Regions from separate parts of the Homo sapiens genome. Here regions 1, 3 and 4 are each reported to be linked to region 2. Evidence: microRNA targets listed by miRTarBase, many of them from high-throughput screens and not tested one by one. Region 2 holds a microRNA gene; each other region holds the end of a gene's coding sequence.

Region 1 (7,279 bases), not on the chromosome of region 2:
CAGAGTCTTGCTGTGTTGCCCAGGCTGGAGTGCAGTGGCGCAATCTTGGCTCACTGCAATGTTCGCCTCCCAGGTTTAAGTGATTCTCCCGCCTCAGCCTCCTGAGTAGCTGGAATTACAGGTGCACACCACCACGCCCAGAATGATTTTTGTATTGTCAGTAGAGACGGGGGTTTCACCATGTTGGCCAGGCTGGTTTCGAACTTCTGACCTCAGGTGATCCATCTGCCTTGGCCTCCAAAGGCCTGGGATTACAGGCATGAGCCACCGCACCTGACCCATCTAGGTATCTCTTGCTAAAGCACAAACTCGTCCCTGCCTCTCTCCTGCTTGGAACTTGCCTTGGCTCCCCAGGGCCCTTGGGACAAAGCCCTGCTCCTCATTCTGGCCCTGTGTGGCCTGGCTCTTGACTGAGTCTTCAGCTCTCCCTCCTGCCAAAGGCCCCTCTATAGCAGTCCATGCACAACAGACAATTCATCTCGCCCAAACAAGCACCCCCAGGATTTTCCTGCCTCTGGTTCTTTGCACATGCTATTCTTTCTGCCTTGAATGCCTTTCCCCTTGAAATGTGGTTAGCAAATATTTGTGGAGTGGGTGTTATTAGCATTTTGGTGCATGTCTGACCCTCTCATCCTGCACATCTGAGGGTGATGTGTTATGTGGGACCGAGTGCCCATCACCTTTGGAGGGAGGCTGTGCCCGAACGTCTCAACAGCTCCATGCATCTGAGAGGCTGATGCCGTGTGATGGTGTGAAGGCCATTCATTCATTCAACAAACAATTTGCCCAGTATCTACTCTGTGGTTTCCCTGGGTTAGCTGGCCCTGGCCAAGACAGCCTCAGCCCCGTCCTCATGGGGCCAACAGTCCAGTGGGGGTGACAGACCAGTTCCCAGGCAGTGATGACCAGAGTGGTCATCACTACCCAGTGACTTGCAACTAGCCACAAATAGTCTCTCTTACCCCAGTGTTGCCCTTCCCCTTGGGGGCTATCTCCTCCTCCCTTCTTACCTACTGCAGGACAATGGTCTGGCTTTTCTCCCACCTTTCCCCTGTATCACGACTTCTCCCTCTTCTGAAATACTCCCAGCAGCATACAAACATGCCATGACCCCTCCCATCTTCCCCATCTAGGTACTTCCCCAGTCGGTCCCTCCTTCCCTCCCTCCCTTCCTTCCTTTTTTTTTTTTTTTTTTTTTTTTTTTTGTTTGAGACAGAGTCTCGCTCTTTCACCCAGGCCAGACTGCAGTGGCGCTATCTTGGCTCACCGCACGCTCCACCTCCCGGGTTCACGCCATTCTCCTGCCTCAGCCTCCCGAGTAGCTTGGACCACAAGTGCCCGCCACCGTGCCCAGCTAATTTTTTGTATTTTTAGTACAGATGGGGTTTCACCATGTTAGCCAGGATGGTCTTGATCTCCTGACCTCGTGATCCACCAACCTCGGCCTCCCAAAGTGCTGGGATTACAGGCGTGAGCCACCACGCCCGGCCCCTTTTTTATTTTGAGACAAGGTCTCACTCTGTTGCCCAGGCTCGAGTGCAATGGCACAATCATGGCTCACTGCAGCCTCGACCTCCTGGGCTCAAGTGATTCTTCCATCTCAGCCTCACGAGTAGCTGGGACCACAGGCGCACACCACCACGCTCAGCTAGTTTTTGTATTTTTTGTAGAGATGGGGTCTCGCTATATTGCCCAGGCTGGTCTCAAACTCCTGGGCTCAATCAGTGCTTTCACCTTGGCTTCCCAAATTGCTGGGATTACAGGTGTAAGCCACCATGCACTGCCACTTCCCCATTTCTTACCATCCCACCCCTTCACTCAACATTGCAAAGAGGATGGTCTCTGGCTCTCCTTCCACACCCTCTTGTACCCTCTCCAATCAGATTCCCATCCCTGCCATGCCAAGGTGGGAAGATCCATTGAGGCCAGGAGTTCAAGACCAGCCTGTGCAAAATAGTGAGACCCCACCGAAAGAAAGGAAGGAAGGAAGGAGGGAGGGAAAAAGAAAGAAAGGGGCTGAAAGCCAGGCCTGGCTAGTGAGCTGGAGTTTAAGGAGTGAGGGAAGCTCTGTGCTCCAGGGCTGGAAGTCCACCATGAGACCACTAAGCTGCCACTCTCCCAGGCAGCTCAGCTCCTCAGGGACTCTCGCTAAACTCATTGAAAAGGGAAGTCCTGACCAGGTGTGGTGGCTCATGCCTGTAATCCCAGCACTTTGGGAGGCAGAGGCAGGCAGATCACAAGGTCAGGAGTTTGAGACCAGCCTGGCCAATATGGTGAAACCTCATCTCTACTAAAAAGAAAAAAAAATAGAAAAACTAGCTGGGCATGGTGGCACGTGCCTATAATCCCAGCTACTCAGGAGGCTGAAGCAGGAGAATTGCTTAAACCTGGGAGGTGGAGGTTGCAGTGAGCTGAGATCTCGCCACTGCACTCCAGCCTGAACGACAGAGTGAGACTCCATATCAAAAAAAAAAAAAAAAAAAAAGAAAAGAAAAGAAAAAGAAAAGGGAAGTTCTGGGAGATCATCCTCTTTGAATTGTGATCCACTCGCCCTAGGTGTGGAAGGGGAGCTGGAGGGAGTGCTCAGGAGGGAGGAGATGCTGGTTGATCCGCACCTACTTTTTTTTTTTTTTGAGACAGAGTCTTGCTCTGTCCCCTGGGCTGGAGTGCAGTGGCGCAATCTTGGCTCACTGCAACTGCTGCCTCCCGGGTTCAAGCGATTCTCCTGCCTCAGCCTCCTGAGTAGCTGGGATTACAGGCATGTGCCACCATGCCTAATTTTTATATTTTCAGTAGAGACAGGGTTTCACCACGTTGGCCAGGCTGGTCTCGAACTCCTGACTTCAGGTGATCTGCCTGCCTCGACCTCCCAAAGTGCTGGAATTACAGGCGTGAGCCACTGCGCACAGCCAATAATACAATTTTTTTAAAGCTCACCTTTATCTGGCCCCTTCTGGTACTGCACTCAGCACCCCCCTGCCCCACAACCACCCCACACTTCTCCATTCTAGGTGGAGAGCAGAAATCATCTTCTTCTGTTAAACAGGTTATGGTCCCTTTCCCTTCTGCCTCAGGGCCCTCGCATATGCTGTTCTCCCTGTCTGCAACTCTTCACCCTACTCCCATTTCACCTACTTCCACCTTCCGGGCTCAGCTCCAGCACCACTCATCACTTCCTCTCTCCCGCCCAGATTAGGTCAGGTGGATCCCGCTCCACCTTCATAAAGCTCCTTTACTTCTTCATGGCTCTAATCATGGTGCCAAGAAAATTGTATCTAAATTATAAATTATGGCTGGGTGCAGTGGCTCATGCCTGTAATCCTAGCCCTTTGGGAGGTCAAGACAGGAGAATCCCTTGAGCTCAGAAGTTCAAGACCAACTTGGGCAACATTGTGAGAGCTCGTCTCTATTTTATTTTTTAAAATTAATTATTTTTTATTTATTTTTGAGATGGAGTCTCACTCTCACCCAGGATGGAGTGCAGTGGCATGATCTCAGCTCACTGTAACCTCCACCTCCTGGGCTCAAGCGATTCTCCTGCCTCAGCCTCCCGAGTAGCTGGGATTACAGGCATGTGCCACCACGCCTGGCTAATGTATTTTTAGTGGAGATAGAGTTTCACCATGTTGGCCAGGCTGGTCTAGAACTCCTGACCTCAGGTGATCTGCCTACCTCGATCTCCCAAAGTGCTGGGATTAAAGACATGCGTAACTGCGCCTGGCCTATTTATTTTTGAGACAGAGTCCTGCTCTGTCGCTCGGGCTGGAGTGCAGTGGCACGATCTTGGGTCACTTCAACCTCTGCCTCCAGGGTTCAAGCGATTCTCATGCCCCAGCTCCCTGAGTAGCTGGAATTACTAGCACGTGCCTCGGCCTCCCAAAGTGCTAGGATTACAGGCGTGATACATCGCCCAAAATTTTTGTATTTTTAATAACTACAGGGTTTCACCATGTTGGCCAGGCTATCATCTCTATTTTTAAAAATTAAACTATAAATTATGATTACTAGAACTATCTATGAGAACATCTTATTACTGTTTCTCCCACTGGACTGCGACCTCTGTGAGGGCAGGGACTGGGTGCTATACCCCTAGCCGCAGCACAGGTCAGGTACCCAAAACGTGTGTGTTGAATTAATAAAATACGAGTAAATACAGAACCAGGGCAAAAATCTAGGGCCCCTGATTTCCCAACTACAGCTTCACCTTCCATAAGCCAGGCATGGAGGTCTCGGGACCCCCATTCTCAGAGAAATCAACCAACTCACCCTTAGCTTAGATAGGGAAACAAAAGGAACTAACCATAAGGGTAAATGCTTAAGAGTTTTAATCAGTCCGCCATAAAAAGCTCCTCCCCATTCTCCATCTTGGGGGCTCAGATCTTGGCTTCGGGTTGAGATGAGGGACAGGGATATCAGGCTGGGAGAGGAGAGTAAATATGAATGCGGCTGAGGGACCAGAGCTGGGATCGGAAGAAAACACAGGTGAAAAGGAGCAGAAAGAGACTGCTAACCCCAGTCCCTGAGCCAAGTCAGAAATCCAAGTCCTTTTATAGCATCCAGGAGCCAAATGTAGTGAAATCCACACATCATATCGTTCTTATCTGCAAAGTGCTGTCATCTGGCGCTGAAAGCACCAGGACTGGGCTGAATTGGGCCCGAAGTGCCTGAAGGGTGTCACTTTAGGTCTGGAGAGTCAAGAGGAGACGCCACCTTGGCCTACAGAGTTGAGAGCGAGCATCATCTTGGCCTGGAGGGGTGTGCAGGAAATGCCACCTTGGTCCAGGGAGTTGGGAGGAAGATCCCCTGCCTTGGGTTAAGAGGGGCCATCATTTTGGGCCTGCAGAAGGAAGGAAACCATGGGGAGTCCCCAGACCCCAGGATCAGGGAGGTGTAAGTAGGATGGAGACAGTAAAAGAAAGCAAAACCTATCCCACGACACTGCTGGACTTGGGAAACAGAAATCAGGCTGAGAGGGCGGGGCTAAGCTCAAAGGGGAGGAGGCAGGAGGCAGATGGGAGAACAAAAAGTAGAACCAGCACACGGAACCAGGGCCAAGCTTGGGCAGCAGAACAAGGACCCAGCTGGCTAGGCGCAGTGGCCCACGCCTGTAATCCCAGCATTTTAGGAGGTGAGGCGGGTGGATCACCTGAGGCCAGGAGTTCGAGACCAGCCTGGCCAACAAGGTGAAACCTCATCTCTACTAAAAATATAAAAAGTAGCCAGGCGTGGTGGTGCATGCCTGTAATCCTAGCTACTCGGGAGGCTGAGGCAGGAGAATCGCTTGAACTCGGGAGGTGGAGGTGGCAGTGAGCCGAGATCACGCCACTGTACTCCAGCCTGGGAGACACAGTGAGACCCTGTCTCTAAAAACAAAACAAGGACCCAGCCTAGGGTGAAGGCAGTTCTGGAAGTGGAGCTAGGATGGGAGGCGTAGCCAACTGAGTGAAGGAAGACGGCAGGGAAGCTGTGCCACATCCTGGGTTCTTGTGGGAAGAACGGGAACAAGCTCCCCACCATAAGCAGAAACCAAACTCAGAAAGGCAGAGCAGAGCCCAGTGTGTGGTGGCTCACACCTGTAACCCCAGCACTTTGGGACGCCACAGTGGGAGGATTGCTTGAGCCCGGGAGTTTGAGACAAGCCTGGGCAACATAGTGAGACCTTCTCCCCTCTTCAAACCGACAGAAAAAAATTAACCGGGCAGCTGGACGTGGTGGTGCAGGTCTGCAGTCCCAGCTACTCTTGAAGGCTGAGCTGGGAGGATCACTTGAGCCCAGGAGGTCGAGGTTGCAGTGAGCAGTAATCCCGCCACTGCACTCTAGCCTGGGTGACAGATAAACACCCTGTCTCCAAAAAAAAAAAAAAAAAAAAAAAATTGGTGAGCCCCCAGGGTGGAAACAGATTAAGGAGCAACTATGTAACAAAGGCTGGAGCCAAGCCCCAGGGGAAGGCTCAGAACCAGGCGGCAGGGTCAGGATCGGGAGAGGAACCAGATCTAAGGATAGTGGGGCCCTGGTCTCCGCAGTAGGGGTTGAACTATATCCAATATAAAGCATTATCCAAGGGGACCGGATTAGCCCCCATGGGTGACACCAAGATGGGAGCGGGGGTGGGGGGTGATAAGAGACACAGGAGACAGAGTCAGGTCCCAGAGGCAGCAAGGCCTACCCCCAAATTGCAGTCAGGTTGGGAAGTAGAATCATGGCTAGGCCCGCGGCCCCGGGTCTTTCTCAGGCTCGGTCCCTGGCACGCCGCGGATGTCCGGCAGCAGGCGGCAGCCAGCCACGATGTCCAGACGCTCGGCCAGCGCACAAAGGTCCCCGCGCGCCAGGCGCACGCTGTGGGCCGCCGCCAGCCCCGCCGCCTGGGCTGCCGCCAGCCTACTAGCCAGGGCGGCCACGTCGCGGCCTGCACGGCGGTAGACACCGCTCACGGCGGCCGCCACGTCGTGGTCCAGCCGCGCCTGGCTCTCCGCCAGCCGAAGTTGCAGGAGCGAGCGCGCGGGGGCGGGCGCCGGGGCCTCCTCCGTGCCCCAGGCCTCCTCCGCCGATTCCCGCTGCACCACGAGTGGAGGCAGGTCCCTCGGCGCGGCCGTCGGTTCCGGCTCCGGCTCCGGCTCCGAGTCGGTCTCCGCGGCTTCCCCAGCCACCCGCAGCCCCGTGGGGCGGCCGCGCGTCGGGCCCGAAGGACCCAGGTACAGCTCCTCCTCCTCCGACGAGGACGCAGAGCGCTCGGAATCCGTCTCGGTCGCCTCCCCCGGCACCACCGTCTCCGGCCTCCGCAGGGGCCTCCGCCGACGACCCTGGGACGCCATGGCACCGAACTAGGGGAGAAGAGCGAAGGGACTGCACGTGAGACCGGCGCCGCGGTGGGTAAAAGGCGCAGGTCCTGGATTCCCAGCCCCTTCGCTGATTCTCTTAACGACTTGGTGTCAGCTGCTCCCCGTCTGGGCCTCAGTTTCCTCTTCTGTAAACTGGGTGATGATGGGGGTTACTGGACCCCAGGCTCTTCAGCGTACAGATGGGGAAACTGAAGACCAGCTCGAACAAGGATCTGGGGCCCGAGTTCCCGGAGTCCCAAGCCGAGGTCTTTACGAATTTGCCTCCTAGTAGAGGCCACACCCTCCACCTGGTCCACCATGCCAATCTCAGACCCGGAAGCACACGGGCCCGTGAGCTGCTCGGGACCAGCGCCAGAGTCGCAGAAAGGATGACAGTCCGACTGGACTCTGCTGGGGGCACTCATGGGATGGGAGAAGCGCTAACGCCAAAGACCGTACCC
Region 2 (7,328 bases):
AAAATAAAGGAGAAGGCAGAGTGAGAAGCTGGGGGTCACTGGCATCATTGTTCAGTATACTACAGGGAGCAAAGGCAACAAAAGCTTGAGTCTGCAGCCCAGAGACTACTGAATCTGGGCTTTCTGTAGTGGGTAGTATGTATAAGGACAGCAGCAAAGGCCAGAAAATGCCATCCTTGTCAGCAATATCAATAGTGACAGAGATTCAGCCCTCCCTCTCTTTATTATCTGGTCACCCTGAGATGAAGCCCAACCACTGGCCCCACCAAGCTATCTTAATGGAAAGAATACTGGGCAAAGAGTTAGGAGACCATAAGTTAATCCCTGAGAATGTACTAAAATTTTCAATTAATAAATATTTCTTGGCTAGGCATGGTGGCTCACGCCTGTAATCCTAATACTTTGGGAGGCCAAAGCAGGAGGACTGCTTGAGCTCAGGAGTTCAAGACCAGTCTGGGCAATATAGTGGGAGCCTGTCTCTAAAAACAATTAAAAATTAGCCGGGCATGGTGGTACATGTTTATAGTCCCAGTTACTTGGGAGGCTGAGGTGGGAGGACTGCTTGAGCCCAGAAGGTTGGACCTGCAGTGAGCCATGACTGTGCCATTGCACTATAGCCTGGGTGACACAGCGAGGCCTTGTCTCAAAAAAAAAAAAAAAAAAAAAAAAAAAAAAAATTATTGAACATCTACTAAATGTTGGCCTTGCACTAGGCACTTGTGAAAAGGGTCTATCACTAATTTGCCGTCAAACCCTGGACAAGTCACCATCTCTTTTCTGAACCTTAACGTCCTCATATGATACATGGAAAAGAACCTCTATGTCACGGGATTGTGTTGTGATCAGATGTGCTTTGAACAATCTACCATATAAACTTGCAAATTTAAAGGTGATATTTTTGGGCTGGATGTGGTGGCTCACACCTGTAATCCCAGCACTTTGGGAGGCCGAGGCAGGCGGATCACCTGAGGTCAGGAGTTCGAGATCAGCCTGGCCAACAGAGTGAAAAAAAAAAAAAGTTTCTTTTTAAACTTGATTTGATCTTAACTAGAGGGCTTAGTAAAATGCAAGGATAGCCCCACTAAATGCCAAAGCCAACTTCCTCTGCCACTGTCTGGATAGAAATCCAGCAGAACATTCCTACCCCCTCAATTTTGTGATGGAGACGGTGACAGAGGAGCAGAAACTTACACATTCTCTTCAAACCCCTCTCAGGATCTTTTTTATATTACTGGTGTCAGAGCTTAGTTCTTAGTAGGAGCTGGACTGTGGGGACTGTGGGCCTACTGGATGAGTCCCCCAGATATAACTCAAATTTCTTACAGCAGGAAGAACAGAGTTCGACTTTGCACGGTAAGGGCACCTTTCCAGTTACTGAGATAATTACTTGACCCCTGGTCCTTCAACTGTTTGGAAACATCTGATGGCCATTAAGCCTGTTGTTTCCTCATTTTCCTGCCTACTGGGATAAACACATCAAAACAGAAAGCTTGATGCTCTAACAATGCTCTCTGATTAGTGGTTTGCAGGATCCTCTGTAATTTTAGGATTTGCTGGCTAGAAAAGGAACAATAGTGGAGTACAAATTATGGTGTGGCCTAGGAAAAAGTTAGGCACCCTGAGATTTAGACTTGGTTCTGCCATGGGCTGTAGACCTTGGTTAGAGACCTTAAGCTTCCCTCATCTTAAAAATTAAAGAACTGGACTGAGTCAGTTACATGAAATCTTCCACGGAAAACCAGGGTTCCTCAAGATGTTAATGAGAGTTCCTCAAAAAAGGGGCTCCAAGGTTAAATAAGAAGAGGAAATTTGGCATATTGCACTCTCAACTCGTTCCCAAGAGACACACACAATAAGGGTCTGCAAAGGCAGCGGTAAAGAAATTTACTTATTAGCATTATTCAATCTGATGTTTCCCAAATTATTAACATCTCTTCTGAGGAAGACACAATTTGAGGAAGACACACTGGGACAGATCTCTAGGGTCCCTGTCAGCTCTAACCTACTGTGATTTGCATCAGGAGTACTTAGCCAGTGCCTGGAGCACCCTGCTTCCCTTCTTATCCAGTTCTCTTAACCTAGTGAGGCATTTAAATGATACTCTGGTTAATGAGAATTTATTATATGTAGTCCATTTTACTGTAGTGAAAGTATCAGGCTGGGCGCAGTGGCTCACGCCTGTAATCCCAGCACTTTGGGAGGCCAAGGCACCTGGATCACGAGGTCAGGAGATGGAGACCATCCTGGCAAACACGGTGAAAACCCGTCTCTACTAAACAACAACAACAACAAAAAAAATTAGCCAGGTGTGGTGGCAGGCGCCTGTAGCCCCAGCTACTGGGGAGGCTGAGGCAGGAGAATGGCATGAACCCAGGGGGCGGAGCTTGCAGTGAGCGGAGATCACGCCACTGCACTCCAGCCTGGGCAACAGAGCGAGACTCTGTCTCAAAAACAAAAAAAAAGTATCAAATTTCAAAGACTCAGAGTGCAATATACTGAAAACGCTATCCTATGAGATAGGATACCTGCAGTTACTAAGCTCCTAACACATGTTCTGTACTGTGCTAGCATTTTCCATTAATTATATCATTAAATCCATACACAACCATAAGGAGTAGACATTGTTATCCTCGTATTACAGAGAAGGAAACTGAGCTCAGAGAGGCCAAGTAACTTGCCAAAGGTCACACAACTAGAAAGTGGCGAGCACCAGATTTCAAACCCAGGAGTACTCATTTTCCAAATCTTGGTTCTGTTTTGGGCTCTGCCACCATGACTATCAGATGGTCCCTAACTCTCTTTAAAGCTTCCTGGGCCTTAGTTTCCTCAACTGTCAAGTGGGAATAGTAATCCTTACACTGCTTCCCTCACAGAGTTGCTCTAAGGTTCAAAAGCAGTAACACGTATGAAAGGGGTCTGTAATATATAAAGATGTGAATATTAGGGGCATTTGAAACATCATGAATAAACGTTGCTATTTCTGTTCATGAATTTTAAGCTGTTTGTTCTTGCAAGGTTCCCAGTCATCCCTTCCCAAATAGTGCTCCTTAAAATTTTCATCAGGATTTTGAATAAACAGGAAATATGTCCATTTCTCTCAGTATTGATTACTCTCTAGGCTGTCTGACAGACTCACACTAAATTGCCAATCTGCTTCTTAGGAGTCAGGAGTGAAAACATCAGAGTGGGTGAGAGCCTGGTGGGAGGCCTGTGAGCTGGGAGTTATCTGAATAGAGATAGCATACTGGCTGTGGGGCTAGACTCCTCACCATCATCTTGGAACATGGCTGGGAAATAGGTCCAAAGGGTCATTTGGACAGCAGATCCCAGCAGCCTCTGTATGAGATCTGTCCAGGAGACTAACCCCATTATATGGGATGGCAAGAGGGGGAGGTGACTGGAAATGAGAAATGGGACCAGGCTGACCAGCTACACTCTCAGATAGAGACTACCCTGACAAGGGCCTAGGCACAGACACAGAAGTAGTTGGGTGCAGGGCTCTCAATTCATCCTTCAACCCTGCCTGATATCACATCCTCATAACCCACATTGCTGTGGCCATCTGCTCCCTCTAGTTTCTGGCAGATTAAGGCCAAAAACAACAGCAAAGCATTTTTGGATCAAGGTCCTGCCTGGGGACAGAGAAGTAAATAATACAAGTCCCTGTTCTTAAGTAAGGCACTAGACCAAGACGGTTTGAGCCTAACTAGAGGCTCTCTTGCATAGCAAAGTCTCTGGCACATGGGTTATATTCAAGAATTGTTTGAACCGAACTGAATCAAAGGAACCTACATTCTGCAAGTTAAGAGCACCTGTTTGGTGTCAGGAGCCCAAGACTTCTAGATTCAATCCTGGTTCTGACATGTACAATTCAGGGACTCTGGACCTCAGTTTGCCCATCTGTAAAGTGCACTTTGTCTACCCCACAAGTTGCTATGAGTAGCCAATGAAGTAGTGGCTCAGTAAATGGCACTCTGTAAATGGCATGAGATGGAACAGCAGGAGCTGATGGGAGCACGGGCGCACATGATCTTAAAAGTTTAGAGTCCAGCCTGAAGAAGACCTGAAATAAGCTCCTTTCTTTCTCCCCAGTCAGCTTAGATCTGCTTTTCAAACACAGCAGACATTCTCTGCATTTCTGGTGACTGTGAAAAGGGGAAGGGGATAATTTGCCACTAAGTAGGGGATAGAAAGAAAGGTTGCCATCTTTATACTTTTCAAAATAAGAGCACGGGATTTGGATTTATAATCCTAACTTTTGTTAATCAAAAGCTGTGAAACTATGAACAAGCCTCAACCTCTCTCAGTTTCCTCATCTGTACATTGTGGGGAAATTTCCTAAGTCATAAGATTGCAGTTAAGGTTCAATGAATTAATGATGTCAAAAGTGTTTTGAAATCCACAAAATGCCAAACAAACGCCAATCATTACAAAGTTGTCTGTCTTCTCATCAGTTTACCAGCTACATAGGACAGTGGTTATTTACCATTTGACAGGTGAGATCATCAAAGCCCAGAGAAAGTGCTTAAAGTAACACACAGCTCAATTCTGACTTCTTACAGCAGAGGTAACTGTTCCTTTACTACAGGGGTTCTTAATTAGCCTGCTTGCCTCATTAAACTGACAGATCTCTGAGGGAGGGGACTACATACATCTTACACATTTTTGTACCCCAGTGCCCATCATGGCACACCTAAAAGATGTGAAGTGTTACTAGAATGATGACTAACATATTGGTAGCAGAAACATATCTAGAACTCAGGACTCCTAATCCCAGATCCAGGGTTCTTTACAACCATACAGTGGCCCAAACCTCATAGACTCGGCTTGCCTTAACATCTCATCTCTTCCTCAATTCTCCACTCTAGCAAGATTCAACTTTCCCTTCAGAGCCTGGCTTTCATAGATGCCAAAGCCAGGCTCTGAAGGGAAAGCTGAATCTGGCTTTCATAGATGCCAGTTCCTCAGCCATAACCTTCCTCATCTCTCCTTGCTGAGCTAATTCCTATCCATCTCTCAGACTTGGAGGCCTTTCTAATCTCTCCTAATACTGGGTCAGGTATTTACTTTCCTCCATGGCTGTTTTGTTTATCACAGAGTCCTGGCACACAGAATGTGTTAAAAGTATCTGTTGAAGGCTGAATGAATGAAACACTGGGTGTAGAAATCCAAAGGTGATGCAGAGAAAATTTTTTTTTTTTTTTTTTGAGACGGAGTCTCGCTGTCTCCCAGGCTAGAGTGCAGTGGTGCGATCTCGGCTCACTGCAAGCTCTGCCTCCAGGGTTCACGCCATTCTCCTGCCTCAGCTTCCCGAGTAGCTGGGACTACAGGCGCCCGCCACCACGCCCGGCTAATTTTTTGTATTTTTAGTGGAGATGGAGTTTCACCGTGTTAGCCAGGATGGTCTTGATCTCCTGACCTCGTGATCCACCTGCCTCAGCCTCCCAAAGTGCTGGGATTACAGGCGTGAGCCACCACGCCCGGCCGCAGAGAAAATATTCTTGACCTGGAAGTCATGCAGCCTGACTGATTCTAATTCTAACTCCACTACTAATGCGTTTCGTGATCTTGAGCAAGTCCCAGTTCTTCTTTGGACCATCTATAAATGAGTTACACAGTATGATCTCAGAAGGTCCCTCCATTGTTAAAAGCATATGAGACTTAGACTCATGTGAAGTCCTAGGGATGAGGAGATTCCAAAGCCAGCTATATGCTCCATAGCATAGGAGACCCAACACTCTCATCCCCCCAGGAGCACGAGAGACACACGACTCTGCTGTCAGGAGCCTCCCAGCCCATTGGTTTACTTAATTCCTCTTGATGAAGTGCCAAGAATAAATCGTAGGTGAGCAGCAGAGCATTTTAACGAGTCCAGAGCCTAATGAATCTTTTCCTTCCTGTGTCAATTAGAATTTCAAAGCTAGGATCCCCAAGGACCAATTTATTGGGAACAGAGAGAAGAAGCCTTTTGTTCATCAGCAGCTGCCTGAGCTACCTGCTCTGCTCCTGTATCTCTGCTGTGTAACAATCCTGCTTACTCAGATATAACATCTGGCACAATAAAGCCTGGCCTGGAGGCTCCTTCTTGCCCAACATTTCTGGGGTCTGAACTTGAGGAAGGAAACAAGGGTCCAGGGTATTTCTGAGGGCAAAGGTGGGGTTGGGGGTTGGTCAGGGAATCAGAGCAGTGCTGACGTTGCTGCTATCTCCTAGGGATACTGGCCTTCAAAGAGCTAACAGCCACAGATCACCAGGCTACTCACCCAACTAAGTATCTGGTACTGTGTGGCACCTATTTACCTGTTATTTTAAATCCTCACAACCTCAAAAGCAGATATCAACCACATCATTTTAGAGAAAAGGAAAAAGAGGATCTGAGAGCTAAAGGATCAGCCTAAGGAACACAATTATTACAGTAAATGGCAGAGAAGGATTTGAACTCAGGTCTGTGCGACTCCGAAGACTAAAGCTCTATCAAACCAATACAACTCTGCCAGGAGCTGATGTCTTGAATGGCAGAGATGGCCCATGGTCAGCCATAGACACATTAGGCATTTGCCACCAACACACTGTCTTTTGCCCGGGCACATGCAAGAGTGGCTGCGCATCACCAGTCCTTCCATTCAATGGAGCTGGCAATCCTCCATCCCTAGAAGATAATCCAAGCAGAGTCACCATCAACACTGCCCCCTGCTCCTACCCCAGAAACCTTTTATTTGTGAGGAATTTCCAATTCTTGATCTAATGGCTCCCATGCACCCAGTTCTCCACCTCCCATACTGTCCGCTCTAAGTCACACAGGGCCAGCCCAGGTACTACTGCTCTGTATTCAACAAAGACACATTTTCCAAGGTCAGCAGATTAGCAAGTCAGGTTTCCAAATGTAACTAGTGTTGAATTTTAGGGCTCTAGTGTGAAAAACACATTAAGAATAGAGGTCAAGGCCAGGCATGGTGGCTCACACCTGTAATCCCCCCACTTTGGGAGGCCGAGGTGGGAGGATCACCTGAGGTCAGTAGTTCGAAACCAGCCTGACCAACATGGAGAAACCCCATCTCTACTAAAAATACAAAATTAGTCAGGCATGGTGGCACATGCCTATAATCCCAGCTACTCAGGAGGCTGAGGCAGGAGAATTGCTTCAACCCAAGAGGTGGAGGCTGCAGTGAGCCGAGGTCACACCATTGCACTCCAGCCTGGGCAACAAGAGCGAAACTCCATCTCAAAAAAAAAAAAAAAAAAAAAAAGAGTGGAGGTCCAGTGACTTGTCCAAGTTTACACAGCTAGAAAATCACAGAGCAACAACTGGAACACAGGTATATACTGAA
Region 3 (7,328 bases), not on the chromosome of region 2:
TATAACAACAATAATAATACTAATACAAGTGAACCTTCACTGAGTGCCATTTATAGATCAAGCACTATTCTAAGGATTTTAAAGCATATTTAATTCTCACAGCACTCTGATGAAGGAGGTATTCATTTTACAATTGAAGAAACAGAGGCCTAGAGACATTGAGTCACTTGCGCAAGGTCACACAGCTGGCCAGTGGCAGAGCCAGCCTTTGAACCTGAGCCTTCTGGTTGCAGAGCTACGGCTTTTAGGCACCGTGCTGAGGGCCTCCAGAATGACACAGATGTGGCCTCGAGTTACACAGGGAGGCAGGTTGAGGGTGACCCCCACCAGGCCTACCCAAGGCTGGGTATTAATAATCACAGTGCATACACCAGGCCCAGGGAGGTTGAGCCACTCATCCAAGCTCACACAGCAAGCTCACAGCACACTCAGGCTGTCATGCAGCCTGGGCTACCCCCTTAACCCTGCCTGGCCCCTGCAGCCAACAGAGACATGGCATCCATCGTGTCTGAGATCATGATGTATGTGCTCATTGTGGTGTTGACCATATGGCTCGTGGCAGAGATGATTTACTGCTACAAGAAGATCGCTGCCGCCACGGAGACTGCTGCACAGGAGAATGCGTGAGTAGGGTGGCTGGGAGGTGGGAGGGCACCCAGGGCACCGTCACACTTGCCAGAGAGGAACTCCGGAGCCCGGGCAGGGAGGAGGCAGCGGAGCGGCCCAGGGCGCCATCTCTCAGTACTACCCAGAGGGGAGTGCTCCCTGTCAGACACAGGATAGGGGTCGTCAGACCCAGCCCCTTCCTCCCTCCAACTCAGGAGCCCAGGCTCCCAGCCAGATTCCTCAAAGACCCTGAGGAGTCCACCCATAGACTCCTTCTCTCTCTAACTAAGGAGCCCTGTGTACCTGGGGTGGAGACCGCTACCTTCCCCCATCCCCCGGGGGTTGGGTCGGTCTGATGATGGGGTCACTGTATACCTGGCCTTTCCCCCACAGCTCGGAATACCTGGCCATCACCTCTGAAAGCAAAGAGAACTGCACGGGCGTCCAGGTGGCCGAATAGCCCTGGTAAGGCGGATGGGCTGGCAGAGGGGAAGGGGATTGGGAGGGGCCGAAGTCCCCCAGGTCCCTAATTCCCCCTCTCTTGCTCCCCTTCAGGCCCTGGGCCCCGCCTCAAGGAAGAGCCAGCCGTAATGGGGACTCTCCAGGCACCGCCTGCCCCCAGCGTGGGGGTGGCCACTCCTGGGCCCCAGAAAGCCTCAGAGTCCTGCCGACGGAGCCACTGGGGTGGGAGGGGGCAGGGGGCTTGGCTCGCACCCCCACTTTCGCCTCCTCCAGCTCCTGCCCCGCCGGCCGCGCACCGCCATGCATGATGGGTAAAGCAATACTGCCGCTGCCCCCACCCTGCTTCTGCTGCCTGTTTGGGGAGGGGGGCGGTGAGGTGGGGGCAGCGGCCCCGCACCCCTCCTCCTTGCTGATTTGCACACATTGGCCGCTTCAGACACGCACTTCTGGGGCCAGCCCCTCCCCGCCTCCTCCCTGCCTGGCGGCAGGGGTCGCGATGATGGGCTGGAGCAGTTTGGGGCAGGGGGTTCTGGGACCCACTCCGACTCCCCCTCCCCGGCATCATTTCCCCTCCCGCTTCCTCCGGCTGGACCTGGGGTCCCCCCTCCCTGTAATGCACTCCTGCCCCGGCCCAACCTCGCCCTCTCTCACCAGCCTTGAACTGTGGCCACCTAGAAAGGGGCCCATTCAGCCTCGTCTCTTTACAGAAGTAGTTTTGTTCATGAAATAAAGACTCTTGGACTTGATGCATAGTTTCGATTGTGAGCCCCGTCACCTTCCCCCCATTCCCGTCCCCGAATCTTCGAGCCCGCTTTCCAGGGACCCTACCTGAGGGCCCACAGGTGAAGCCACTTAGTGCCTGATCTGTGTCGGGGTTGGGGGAGCCATGGGCTCAGGGGTGAGGGAGAGTGGAACGGAGCCAGGAAGGGAGGGGGTGCCGTGGAGGGAAGAGAATCGAGGCTGATGCTGGGGTGCAGGGGTGGCATGGGGTGTGTGGTGTGCCCAGCAGTGTGAGTCTCTGGAGAGGTGGGCGCTGGGGAGAAGGAGAGGGAAGGAGAGACGGGTATGGATGGAAAGGCAGAGGAAGCCAGGCTAAACCAGCGTGTCCCAATGAGGGGCCCTGGGCTGAGTGGAGGAAATGGGTGCGGTGGAGGTGGGTTTGGCTGGGCACAGCGGGCACGTGTGGGTAAGCGGGTGGGGCCGGTTGTGCGGGTGGCCTATCTGGGGCAAGCAGCCGAGGCCGACTGTGTCCGGCGTGTGGTTGAGCACGGGCAGGTGTCTGGCGGTGACCCTGCACGTCTGGTGTTTACCTGGCCCTGGGTCTGACGTGGGCCGCGCCTGGCTGCTGGCGGGACAGTGTGTTATCTGCCTGCGGACGCTTCCGGCCACTTGGCCTGGGCCTCTGCCCTTAGCGCTGTGTTTTCCCGGCCAAGCCCCCCATCCCCCCTATCTAGTGCTAGGACTTTCTGGCTCCAGAGGTCACCGCGGCCGGGCGGAGGCTGCCAAAGCAAACCAGCCCCGTGACTTGTAGGAAGCCAGCGGGGGAGGGGCCGGGGCAGGATGAGCAGGGCAGGCGGGAGAGGCTGGGGCTGGGGTTGGGGCCCAGGAATTGGGCAGGGAATTAGGCAGAGGTGCAGCAAGTGGCGGGCACAGCCAGGACCTGGGGCTGGAGGACGCAGAAAGGGCGGGGGGAAGGGTTCGCTGGGTGAGGGTGGAGTGGGCTTAGGGCAGCTGGGGCCCTCCATCTGATCTCTTCTGGTCAGACCCCCACCCTTCAGCCTGCACTTTCTCCCTAAACCCCCAGCCTCCGGCCAGGCCTGTCCCTGTTCCCACATCCCCGCAGACAGGCACACCTGGGTCCCCCTGGAGGTCCAAGGCAAGCCCCGTAGCTGGGCCCGCCTGGTCCAGCCCCCACAAGCCCGGCCCCATCAGCCAGGTGGCCTCCAGTGCTGCCAATCGAATGGTCCGGCCCCTCCCCGCCCCTTCACCCGCCCCTCGCCCAGCCCCCTCCTCCTCAGGTGAGGCAGCCTGGCCTAGCAGGCCCCACGCCACCGCCTCTGCCTCCAGGCCGCCCGCTGCTGCGGGGCCACCATGCTCCTGCCCAGGCCTGGAGACTGACCCGACCCCGGCACTACCTCGAGGCTCCGCCCCCACCTGCTGGACCCCAGGGTAAGGACAAGGGCCCCCAGACTCACAGTTCCAGCCCTGAGGACAGGGGTTCCCTCATCCCCCCACCCAGCCTAATGCCCACCTCCTAATAGAGGGGTTCCTGGGGACCTGAAGAGGGGGCACTATGACGTCCCCCCAAGCACCTAGGTGTTCTGTCCTGCTCTTCCTTCAGACTCAGCCGTTGGACCCCAGTCCTTTCCTCCCCAGACCCAGGAGTTCCAGCCCTCAGGCCCCTCCTCCCTCATACTAGGGAGTCCTGGCCCCCAAATTCCTCCTTTCCCAAGACTTATGATTTCAGGTCCTCAGCTGTCTCCTCCCTCAAACCGGGATCCTCAGTCCCCTGCTCCACCAGGCTCAGGCATGGGGGTCCCCATCCCTGCAAATCCAGGCGTCCCCCCGCTGCTGGTCAGACACTGACCCCATCCTTGAACCCAGCCCAATCTGCGTCCGTGATCACGGCGTGCTCTGGCCAAGGCCCAGTCCCTACAGCCTGCCTGGATGGACGCCTGGGACTGGGGGCGCCAGGACTGGGCTGGGCTGGGCTCCCCCAGGCCCTGCCTCCCCGTCCATCTCCTCACAGGTCCCACCCTGGCCCAGGAGGTCAGCCAGGGAATCATTAACAAGAGGCAGTGACATGGCGCAGAAGGAGGGTGAGTCCCCTTCCCTGAGCCCCAGCTTTGGCTCTGCCTGGCGCCCCGCCCTCTGTGCTCTTTTCTCTACCCTCTACTCTTCGGAGCCCCCTCTCTCTGGGCACCCCTCCCAGATGCATCCCCACCCCTGTTAGTCCTCCTCCACCTGATTAACTATTAACCACATTTTCTGTGCAGCTGTGCCACCACCAGCCTCCCTTCTACCCTATGTGACCTTCCTGGCGTGCTGCCTCAGTTTCCCCTCATCCCCCAGTGATTTCTCAGCTAACTCTGGACTTGTCCTCTGCTGGGGCTGAGGCGGGGAAGCTGTAGCTGTCATGGTTAAGGACACAGATTTGGAGTGAAACACACAGGCTTGCATTTGAATTTGCTCTTGCCATCTTTTTTGCTGTGTGATCTGGTGCAAGTGACATTATTCTTAGGGCTTTGGTCTCCCTCTGGGTCAAGCATGGATACCAGTCCTCCCTCTGTGAGGTTGCTGAGTGCATGACACACACCAGGCACTGGTCTGGGGCTCTGCATATAAGACGCATGCCATCAAGCAGAGCTGTCATGACAGAGGTTGGCAAACTCGGAGTCCCAGAGACCCAGGACCCCCACCGATCCCAGACATTCCTCCACCTCCTGGCTCTGTGGGCAAAAGAGCAGAGGGAGGACTTTGGACTGGGCCTGGATGGATGGAGAGGGGAGAGACGGCAGAGAAACCACCATAAGGATGAGAGAGAGAGACTGCGTCATGGAGTTGCTGGCCCTTGGGAGTCTCTGGGCAGCCCCCAGCTAGCCTGGCTTCCTTTCTACCTCTCACACATGGGACCCAGCTGGAGGGGCGCATGGAGGGGCGTCCTGTTCTTTCTGCCTTCCCCTAGCTGGGGCTGACTCCCTCTCTTCTTCCGCAACCAGGATAGCCGGGCTCAGTCCTGGGCAGTAGCACTTTCTAGCTGTGTGGCCCTGGGCAGACGGCGTGTTCTCCCTGGGCCTCCATTCTCTCATCTGTGAAATGGAGAGGGTGACAGTGCATGTCCAACAGCGTGGGGCGAGGCCTGAAATGCCAGGATGGGCAGGAAGCACTGAGCGTGTTGGCTGAAATGATTAGTTCAGATCTCTGGCCTCCTCGGGTCTCGGCACAGCTGGCAATTCAGACCCCAAACCAATCAGCTGCAGTCCAGAGGGAACCCAGGCTCCCAGTTACTCAGGAGAAGGCATTGCACCCTAGCCGAGCAGGTGGATGACAGAATCCAGCTCCTTGGGGACAATCTCTTTCCTGGAGCTGCCGGAAGGACAGCCCCAGGGCTTGGGCCCATGGGTGAATGAGCCAGGGAAGAAAAGCAGAAAATGCCCGAATGGACAGAGATGGCCTGGGTACAAAGAGAAACAGACACAAAGTGGGCTCTGGTGCCTCCCTGGCAGCTCCGGGCTGGTCTTGGAGGGGAGTCCTGCTGTCAGGGCTAGGGGTGTGGAGGTCGAACCTGGACACAGATGCTGAAGGGTTCCGATTCTGCACTTACTTGCCGGGTGACCCGGGTTTGGTGGCTGCCGGACTTTGGGCCTCCTTTTCTCATCTGTAAACTGGGGGTGATGGCAATGGCGCCTTCCTCGTGAACAGCTGCAAGGATTTAAGTAAGGATGCTGTGCAGGACTGGACGGGGTTAGGGTAGGGCGGTGCGTCCGTGTGTGATTCAGAGAGCCGTTGTGGCTGCAGCGGCTGCTGTTGTTGGTGTCACTGTTATTGCTGCTGGCTTCTTGGTGCTGCCTGGAAACTTGGAATTGGAGGAGGTGATACTGGAGTTGCAATTCCAAGGATGCCAGGCAGAGGGAAGAGCAAGGCTCTTGCTCTTCTCTGGGAAGCTGGGAGGTGACACAGCACTGGTGTGCACGTAGCCAATTGTGGTATTTCTGGAGGTGAAGCTGGAAGTTGAGCTGGGTGGGAGAAGAGGTGTGCAAGCTGGACCAGGCAGGGGTGGGACTGTTTTGGGGAAGAGCTGGCCAATTCCTTGCAGTACCAGGTCTCTCCACAAGGTGGCGCCAGTGGTTAGTCCCTGCTTCTCTTGTCTAACTTGTATTTTACAAGTTCTACTGTTTGGGTTGCTTTTTGGAAGCTCTCTCTGGTACCTGATAGTGACCCACATGGTTGTCTGAGAATTGGGGGAAACATACTCCCAAATCTCTGAAAGCCATGCTTATACCCTAGTGGGGCTGGAAATGCCAGGCTGAGGGACTTAAGCTGTCTGGGGGGTACTAGGGAGTCACAGAGGGTTCTATAGGTAAAGAGGGGACAGGTTGGATTTGGTGTCTCAGTAGGTTCCCCAAGCCTCCGTGTGGAGGGTGCGCTAGAAGGGAGACTGAGCCCAGCGGTTGGATGGGGCCGGAGCAAGGTGCAGATGGAGAGAAAGAAGGAAACGGGGGAAGGAGAGTCACTCAGGAGGATTGGCAGGCTGTCGGGGGAGGGGAATGTTATGCAGATGGGGATGGTCCTAGGAGTGAGGGCCTCTGAGACAGGACCGGGAGGAAGAATATACTTGGGGAGACATTGGGGAGACATTCTGGGACCTGGTAGGGGCAAAGGGACTAGGAGGTCCCAGGGAAAGGTATTTAAAAGGTATTTAAAGGACTGCAGGAGCCCTGACCTGGGACCTGGAAGAGGGTCTAGGGCTGGGGACAGAGGGGAAACTGAGTCCACAGAGGTGGGTGAGACAGACTTAGGGGCAAGGAGGAGCAGGGGGAGGCTGCGGCCAGCCCTACAAACTCTGGATTTTACGGAGTAGGTAGAGGGTGGGTGAAGACAGCAGCCTCAGAGGCGGGAAGGAAAATCAGGTGCGCCTGGTGTCCCAGAAGTCCAAAGAGGAGAGCATTTATACAGGAAGCTGCAGTCATGTAAGATGAGGCCCGAGACACGGAGCCACCAGTTGAGTGGATTTTCAGAGCCAGAGAGCCAAAGGTGTTACGCGTGGGGGTCTTTGCAGCCAAATGGTGGAGGCGGAAGAACTGACCTATGAGAAGACCCAAGGCATCCAGAGGGGCCTGGAGAAGCAGGGGCAGAGAGTCTCAGGGAGATGTAGGGGTGGGGGAGGTCTGGCTTACCAAGGGAAATAGCCCTGCTGCTGGGATCAAAGAATTGATGTTGACGTGCCGCCTGTCCCAGTAGAGACACGCAGGGAGGATGAGGATGCGTCCCACACCCTGGGCCAGATGAGGATGCTGCCTGTCCCAGTAGAGACACGCAGGGAGGATGAGGATGCGTCCCACACCGTGGGCCAGATGAGGATGCTGCCTGTCCCAGTAGAGACATGCAGGGAGGATGCCTCTCATACTGGGGGAACCCCAGGATGCAGATGCTTCCTGTCCCACTGGAGGCGCTGAAGTCCTCTGAACCACACAGCATGGAAGGAGGTTCTTCCTCTCACCCTAGGAGACACATACATAGTGGCATTGCTTCCTGTCCCA
Region 4 (7,328 bases), not on the chromosome of region 2:
GCCACCCTTTTCCCAGTTACTCAAAAAAGGAAAAAACTGGAATGTAAGTGTCATTAGATGGCAAATGTTGACCTGTACCATCCATTAGGGAAACTTAAATTCACAAAACTTGTTTTTTTTTTTGTTTTTTTTTTTTTTTGAGGCAGAGTGTCGCTCTGTCGCCCAGGCTGGAGTGTAGTGGCATGATCTTGGCTCACTGCAACCTCTGCCTCCCGGGTTCAAGCAATTCTCCTGCTTCAGCTGCCTGAGTAGCTAGGATTATAGGCATGCGCCACCATGCCCAGCTAATTTTTTTGTATTTTTAGTAGAGACGGGGTTTCACCATGCTGGCCAGGCTGCTCTTGAACTCTTGATGTCGTGGTCCGCCTGCCTCGGCCTCCCAAAGTGCTGGGATTACAGGTGTGAGCCACTATGCCCGGCCTACAAAAATTGGAATTTTATTGCGATTACTTTTGGGTGCTTTGCTACTGGAATCTTGGTAAAGTATGGTTAAGACCTAGTCTAAATCCCCGTGAGAATGGGGAATTTTCCCGTGACTGCTAACTAAAGGTCTAGCCTCTGATCGAGCACTTGGATTGATGAGGAGGAACTCACTGCAACATTTTAAGACAATTCATTCCACAGCTCTCACTTTTGGAAAATCCTTACTTGTCAGTCTTTAAGTCCTACTGACTTTATCTTGTCAACATCTCTAATCCAGCTCTTCCACCCTATCCCCTCTAGTTACAACCTTAGTTCAGGCTCTGGGTTTTCCCACCTGGACTGCTGTAGCTGCTGCCAGACTGCATTCCTTTCTCCCATCTCCCACCCCTTCAATCCAGGTTCCAAGTCACCCTTCTAGTCACATTTGCATCAACACTGCAACACTTTTCTAAGACACAAAACCTGATCACTTCCCTGTTTAGTTATCTTGGGTAGTCTCCCATTCTCTAGAGGAAGCAGGTCTTGAAGGATCCTTCACAATCTGCCCCCCACTTGTCCTTCCAGCTTTATTTCTGGCCAGGACTCCCGTGAACTTAAGCATAAATATCAGTACTTGTAACGTGCTTATAAGGTCTGAAAATGAAATTGTTTCATGACGGCCTTTTCTTACTTTTTCTCTGCAATGTCTTACCCCACTCTCATCTGCCTGGCAAATGCACAGGAAAGGCAAAACAAATAGGCAACAAGTACAAGCTGCTTGGACTATAATCACACACTTGCAGGGTGACCTTTGATAGGTTAACAATATCTGTCTGCTTCAGTTTCATCAATCTGTAAAACTGGGTGAGCAAAGTGGACTACTTTGTAAGGTTAGTAGGTGGTCTGAGGTAAAAGTATTTAGCATACCCACTGGCGTTTAAATACTCCAGAAGCAGGTATTGTTAGCTCCTTGCAAGTGTTCAAGGGTTGCCTTCTCCATGCAACTTACCCGACTTCCTCCCCCAGGTTACCATTAGCCAGTTCCTTTTTTGGGCAGTGGGAACTAAACCCAGTACACTTATTTCTCTCACAGCACTCCCCACATTTATTATACTACAGATGCTTTTCAGCTTATAATGGGGCTACATCCCAATAAACCCAACAAAAGTTGAAAATACCGTTAAGTGAAAAATGCATTTAATACACCTAGGCTACCTTAAACCTACTCAGATCACTTACATTAGCTTACAGTTGGGCAAACTCATCTAACACAAAGCCTATTTTATAATAAAGTGTTGAATGTCTCATGTAATTTATTGAATACTGTACTGATTGTATGGATACTTGAAGTACTGTTTCTACCGAATGTGTATAGCTTTTGCACAATCCTAAAGTTGAAAAACTGGAAGTCAAACCATCATTATGTTCAGGCCCATCTGTATTTCTGACCCCCTACTAGACTAGCTCCTTGAGGGAAAGGGCCAAAGCCCTCCAGCATTTAGCACCGGCCTTGCATATCTAATAGAGGTTCATAGTTCACTGAAATGGGGTTGGGGGCAAGAGTAGCCAGAAATTGGCCTTTTATTTCCTACTTACTGATCATGGGTCAGCTTAGCTGGGGTGCAAAAGTATAGTATGTATTTCACTGGACCATCCTTGAACTTCCCAAAGCCATGTCCTGTTTCCTCTTGTCTTCTCTAAGCTAAGCATTCTTAGCTCCTTCAAGCTTCTTTTCCTTGACACGATTTGTCCTCTACATCTTAGCCTTCCTCTGGCAGAGGACTCATCTGTCAGGGAGCCTCCGGTTGAGCACCAGAAGGGAACATGGCAATGAGGATCACTGATAGGCACAGGAAGACTGAAAGGACCTTCCACACTACCCTAGACAACCTGTTTTTATTATCTCATCCTAGAACCACACTGGAGTTTTTTTGGACACATTAACAGTTCCTGGCATAATAAACTTTTTTTTTATTTTAAATTTTAAGAGACAAGGTATTGCCACATTGCCCAGACTGGTCTCAAACTCTTGGGCTTAAGTGATCTGCCCTCCTCAGCCTCCTAAAGTGCTGGGATTACATGGGTGTGGCACCACACCTGGCCCTCCTGGCATAATAAACTTTATTTTTTGAGACAGAATCTTGCTCTGTTGCCCAGGCTGGAGTGCAATGGTGTGATCTCGACTCACTGCAACCTCTGTCTCCCAGGTTCAAGTGATTCTCCCGCCTCAGCCTCCCGAGTAGCTGGGATTACAGGCACGTGCCACCATGCCCAGCTAATTTTTTTATTTTTAGTAGAGGCGGGGTTTCACCACATTGGCCAGGCTGGTCTCGAACTCCTGATCTCAGCTGATTTACCCACCTAGGCCTCCCAAAGTGTTGGGATTACAGGTGTGAGCCACCACACCCAGCCATTAAACTCTTAGTAGCACACAATACTGTTAGTGACAGCACAGTACTCTATAGTCCTCAACTCTGCACAGATGTTATTATCAATCTGCATTTATTGAAATGTTACATTTAGATTCTGCTCATTTTTATAGTTTGTAATGGTATTTGTTTGGATCCTAAATTTGGATTCTAAATTGTCATCCTTCCTAAGGGTTTCTTATTATCTAAAAATTTGATCAGCACTCCTAATTTACTAGTACTATCTCTTGTGTAAATGGCTTCAAATTCTTTTGTGGAATGGGTAAGGCATAAAAAAAGTCATCTGTCACTAATATCAAAGGAGGGGCCAAGGACACAGCCCTGGGGGAACTTACCAGGTCAACCCACAATGGGTGAATTTATAGTTTGTTAGTTAGTGGTCAGTTACCAACTTCTCTGTCTGTCTAATGCTTTGACTAAAATGTCCAGATTATTTACCTAGTTAACAAAATTAAAGAAGATTCTAAGACCAGTTTAGCATCATTTTCTCTGAAGTCCATAATGAATGTCTGTTAAACTCTCGTCACTCTTATTTAGGTGCTTTTGGGTCATTTGTTGTAGGTTCATTCTCCCAAATCAATGTCACATATACGTCTGTAACTTGTGTTATCAGCTTCCTTCCTAGGGCTTTAACTTCTTTTCAGTCTTATAGCATTCCTTCCATTTTCCTTTCAGTTCACTCCAATAAAAGCTCGACAAACTCCTGGGAGCCCCTTGGTGCCCCAGCTGCTGTTTACCAGTCAGGAGACTAAAATGTCTCAGAGCAGCTAAGTGCTCTTTTTTATTTTTACCTCATTTGTCTTACCTTGAACTTTTTAGTTCCTTGTAACCACTTAGCCCTGCCCTTTTCAGACTGAAGCTAGTTCTCTTTGGCCAAAGACAGGAGACAAAATATGGTCTAGAGTTTCTGTCAACATGTACTGGCCTCCAACAGATCTTTTTTCTTCCTGCTGACACTGGACACAGTCTCTCCACTCTTTTTCTCATCAACAGAATGGGAATATCCACTCTGTGAACCTGTTATAAAGGTTAAATGGGATAATGTATATGAAAATGCACTGGAAACACAATTAAGTACCTGCACATCGAGGGGTCCAAGACCTTCTGCTCTCACCCACAGCCGAGTATCTGTTAGCCAGGGGTAGCCCTTAAGTGTTACTAGGGCCCTTTCCTCAGGACTCAAGTTCTCCTGAGGCAGGATGCCCAGTCCTCCCCCAAATCAGCATGAGAGCAGAAAGGACCCTTGCCAAAGGATTTAGGACCACTTTTGGCACTAGATATAGAATGTTTGTCTAATTAGCAGACGCAGAGGGACCCCCATCATTCTCAGTCTGTGTGTGGGAGCCTTAAGCCTTCCCAAGCTCAGCAGTTCAATGCTACTGGCATGAGACCATTCTTTTGTGCCAATATCAGAGGCTGACTTGGCCTTATGCCTTTAGCACCAAATCCGACTGGCACTGCCTTGAGATAAACTATGGAGTCTGCAAGGCCGAGGGTGGTTTTCTCAGCACCACTTGGTCAGATCTGCCATCATTTCCCCAGTATCAGCAACTCCCACAATGCCATGTGAAGCAGCAGGGGCACAAGCAGTTAGCCTCAGAACCTGGCTGGCATGGGACGACTGTGAACATGCCCGCAGGCTTCTCAAAGGTAGTAAAAACTTTTAACTCTACTTCTTCCAATCTCAGTCATGGAGGTTGAACACTGGGGACACCTAGTGGCATGAAGAAATTACCAGCTACAATATCCTTGGGGCCATCCCCTTGAGTGGAGATTCAGATTCACTTTATATTCTTTCTCTTTTTTTTTTTTGAGACAGAGTTTCGCTCCTCTTGTTGCCCAGGCTGTAGTGCAATGGTGCGATCTTGGCTTACTGCAACCTCTGCCTCCCAGGTTCAAGCGATTCTCCTGTCTCAGCCTCCCGAGTAGCTGGGATTACAAGTGCATGCCACCATGCCTGGCTAATTTTTGTATTTTTAGTAGAGACAGGGTTTCATCATGTTGGTCAGGCTGGTCTCGAACTCCTGACCTCTGGTGATCCGCTGGCTTCGGCCTCCGTAAGTGCTGGGATTACAGGTGTGACACACCACGCCCAGCCTATATTCTATTTCTTCTTTGTGAGAATATCAATCTAAAGAAATATCCTGTGGTTATTAAAAATGGGGCACCAGATGTGGGCACTACCAAAAAAAGGGGAACACAGGTTTCATCTTTCTCCCCATGATTTGTGTGTGTGTGTGTGTGTGTGTGTGATTGAGTCTTGCCTTGGAATGCAACGGTGTGATATCGGTTCACTGCAACCTCTGCTTCCCAAGTTCAAGCGATTCTCCTGCCTCAGCATCTCAAGTTAACTGGGATTACAGGCATGCACCACCATGCCCAGCTAATTTTTGTATTTTTAGTAGAAATGCAGGTTTCACTGTGTTGGCCAGGCTAGCCTCAAACTCCTGATCTCAAGTGATCCGCCCATCTCAGCCTCCCAAAGTGCTAGGATTACAGGCGTTAGCCACCGCGCCCAGCCTCTCTCCATGATTTTCTAATCCTCATTTACTCTTTGAACCCCAAACAGACTAAACTTCCCAATTAAGGAATCTCCCTTAAAAATATTTGATTAAACAATGCCAGTTCTTTAAGAATCATTTCAGGCTATGTTTGCCAAGACACACTAGAATGTTTAGACAGGCTCCACCTAATCCTTTCCCCCATTACTTTTACTTACCTTCTAAAGGGAATAGAAGGCAAACAGGTGCTGAGACACCTTATACCATGCAACTAAATTCATTTGTAAAGATTACTTTACTGTCCTAGAAAAATACATGTTGCAAATTTGAGGGCTACAACTTAAGCACTTTAGAGGCTTCCTGAGGGAAAGGGGATAACCTTTGAATATCAGACTCTGTGGTAATGTGTGGGAGAGGCATATTAAATATAGTTGGGTCAGGTGGATTTAAAAAAAATCCCTTTTCCCCATTTTTTTTTTTTTTTCTAAAAAAGGAAGATCAAATTGCCATCTGTCTGGCTTATTTTGTGTGTGCATGTATATATAGGAACAGCTTGAGGGGAAGGGTTATGTCATGCAATGAAGCAAAAACAAGACGACCTCCTCTGACAGAGGAGCCTTAGTGTTGTAGAAGAGAAGCAAGGCTGAGGTCACTGGAAAGGCTTAGAATGAAGCTGCTCTTGCCTGTTCCTCCTGAGAACCCAGAGCAGCAGTGGTCCAGGGCACAAAGCATAATGATCTCTCATGAGGATTCCTATCTGAACACATCAGAAGTCCTATGAACATAGATAGGTCTGTTTTAGAATATAAATGGTAGTGACTTCCTGCGCTCCTGAGGCGGGGCAAAATAATCCATAAACACATAATCCTTCTGGGCAATAATGTTTCTGGACTCGCCAGCAGAGGGCTCTAGGAACAGAGGTGGGGGTAGAGTCGGGGAGAAAAAAGGTTCTAGAGATGGCATGTCTTCAGGGGAACTTTGAGAAATGTCCTTTGTTCCAGCATTCCTAAGTGACGGCACCGGTGAGCCTGGTCTGAATTGTCATCAGTGTCACTGCCGAGGCCAAGGGCCAAGGGTCAAGATGCCACTTTAGGTTGAGAAGAAAGTGCATCTCAAGGCCAGTGAGGGCTGCAAAATGGTTTGCGGCTGGCCCAGAAGGAGCAAATGTAGAAAGGCTCCCCTTTTTAGATGCCGATGGTCTGTAGAACTCGCCTCTCATTGTCATTAAGGTGGCCTGAAAACATTATGTAGCAGGGCTGCTGAGCAAACTGGCAGAGGAAATCTGTGAGATATGCCTGGAGGAAAGAGCAAGAGTGGCATTAGTGAGACATTGCAAGTCACCCATTTGCAGTGGAGCAAGAACCACAATCAAATGGCACAGGGAATGCTGGTTTTTAGACAAATGCCAGCTCCCTGAGGGATGGTCTTTCATGTTCTTGGATCTAGTTTAGGTAATCCACAGGGAAACAACATTTTTCCAAGGCTGTATCACCCCAAGGACCTTCACAACATAGCCTCTAGAAGATGAATTACAACACATCAAGTGCAAAGTTCCAGCCCACCCAAAACCCTGGACCACTCAACAAGACAGGAACTCTTTCCCATGAGGCTCCCATGTTAAATTATAAATGGATTTTTTTTTTTTTTTGAACACAGGGTCTTGCTTTGTCGCCCAGGCTCGAGTGCAGTGGTATGATCACAGCTCACTGCAGCCTTGACCTCTTGGCCTCAAGCGATCCTCCCACCTCAGCCTCCCGAGTAGCTGGGACCACGGGGGTGTGCCACTATGCCCAGATAATTTTTAAATTATTTGTAGAGACAGGGTGTCCCTGCATTGCTCAGACTGGTCTTGAACTCCTGGGCTTAAGCAATCCTCCCGCCTTGACCTCCCAAAGTGTTGGGATTACAGGCATGAGCCACCATGCCTGGCTATAAATGGATTTGAGCCCATATTCCTGTTTCCATGGCCTGGGACATTGTCATTTGCAAGATATCT

What was found. The annotated mature microRNA hsa-miR-4755-3p reads AGCCAGGCUCUGAAGGGAAAGU and lies in region 2 at 4,878-4,899, opposite strand. An mRNA with a match to its seed (bases 2 to 7 or 8) in the 3' UTR can be bound and repressed. Matches are read on the target gene's strand: a 7mer-m8 pairs with bases 2 to 8, a 7mer-A1 pairs with bases 2 to 7 and ends in A, and an 8mer does both.
Region 1: the mRNA of BLOC1S3 is a reported target of hsa-miR-4755-3p. Seed matches in the 3' UTR shown: 7mer-m8 at 5,219-5,225.
Region 3: miRTarBase lists SCN1B as a target of hsa-miR-4755-3p. Seed matches in the 3' UTR shown: 7mer-m8 at 1,545-1,551.
Region 4: miRTarBase lists IPO9 as a target of hsa-miR-4755-3p. Seed matches in the 3' UTR shown: 7mer-m8 at 5,259-5,265, 7mer-m8 at 2,721-2,727 and 7mer-m8 at 330-336.

The regions. Positions count from the first base shown.
Region 1 is chr19:45,178,830-45,186,108 of GRCh38, reverse strand. BLOC1S3 (biogenesis of lysosomal organelles complex 1 subunit 3) reads right to left here. Exons shown (of 2, transcript NM_212550.5): 1 at 7,278-7,279; 2 at 4,309-6,821. The coding sequence starts at 6,812. The coding sequence ends at 6,204. Among named protein-coding and RNA genes, the nearest start is that of BLOC1S3, 3.7 kb to the right of the region's middle. RefSeq lists enhancers at 5,111-5,612, 6,038-6,538, 7,079-7,279 and a silencer at 6,419-6,728.
Region 2 is chr20:34,046,733-34,054,060 of GRCh38, reverse strand. MIR4755 (microRNA 4755) reads right to left here and starts at 4,942; the gene lies at 4,871-4,942. All of the region lies in intron 2 of RALY (RALY heterogeneous nuclear ribonucleoprotein), which reads right to left.
Region 3 is chr19:35,038,636-35,045,963 of GRCh38, forward strand. It overlaps SCN1B (sodium voltage-gated channel beta subunit 1), which reads left to right. Exons shown (of 6, transcript NM_001037.5): 4 at 482-623; 5 at 1,000-1,071; 6 at 1,162-1,814. The coding sequence ends at 1,066. HPN (hepsin) reads left to right here and starts at 3,086. Exons shown (of 13, transcript NM_001384133.1): 1 at 3,086-3,237; 2 at 3,818-3,887. The coding sequence starts at 3,872. RefSeq lists an enhancer at 1,718-2,557.
Region 4 is chr1:201,875,243-201,882,570 of GRCh38, reverse strand. IPO9 (importin 9) reads right to left here. Exons shown (of 24, transcript NM_018085.5): 24 at 1-6,627. The coding sequence ends at 6,517. Among named protein-coding and RNA genes, the nearest start is that of SHISA4, 10 kb to the left of the region's middle. RefSeq lists an enhancer at 1-264.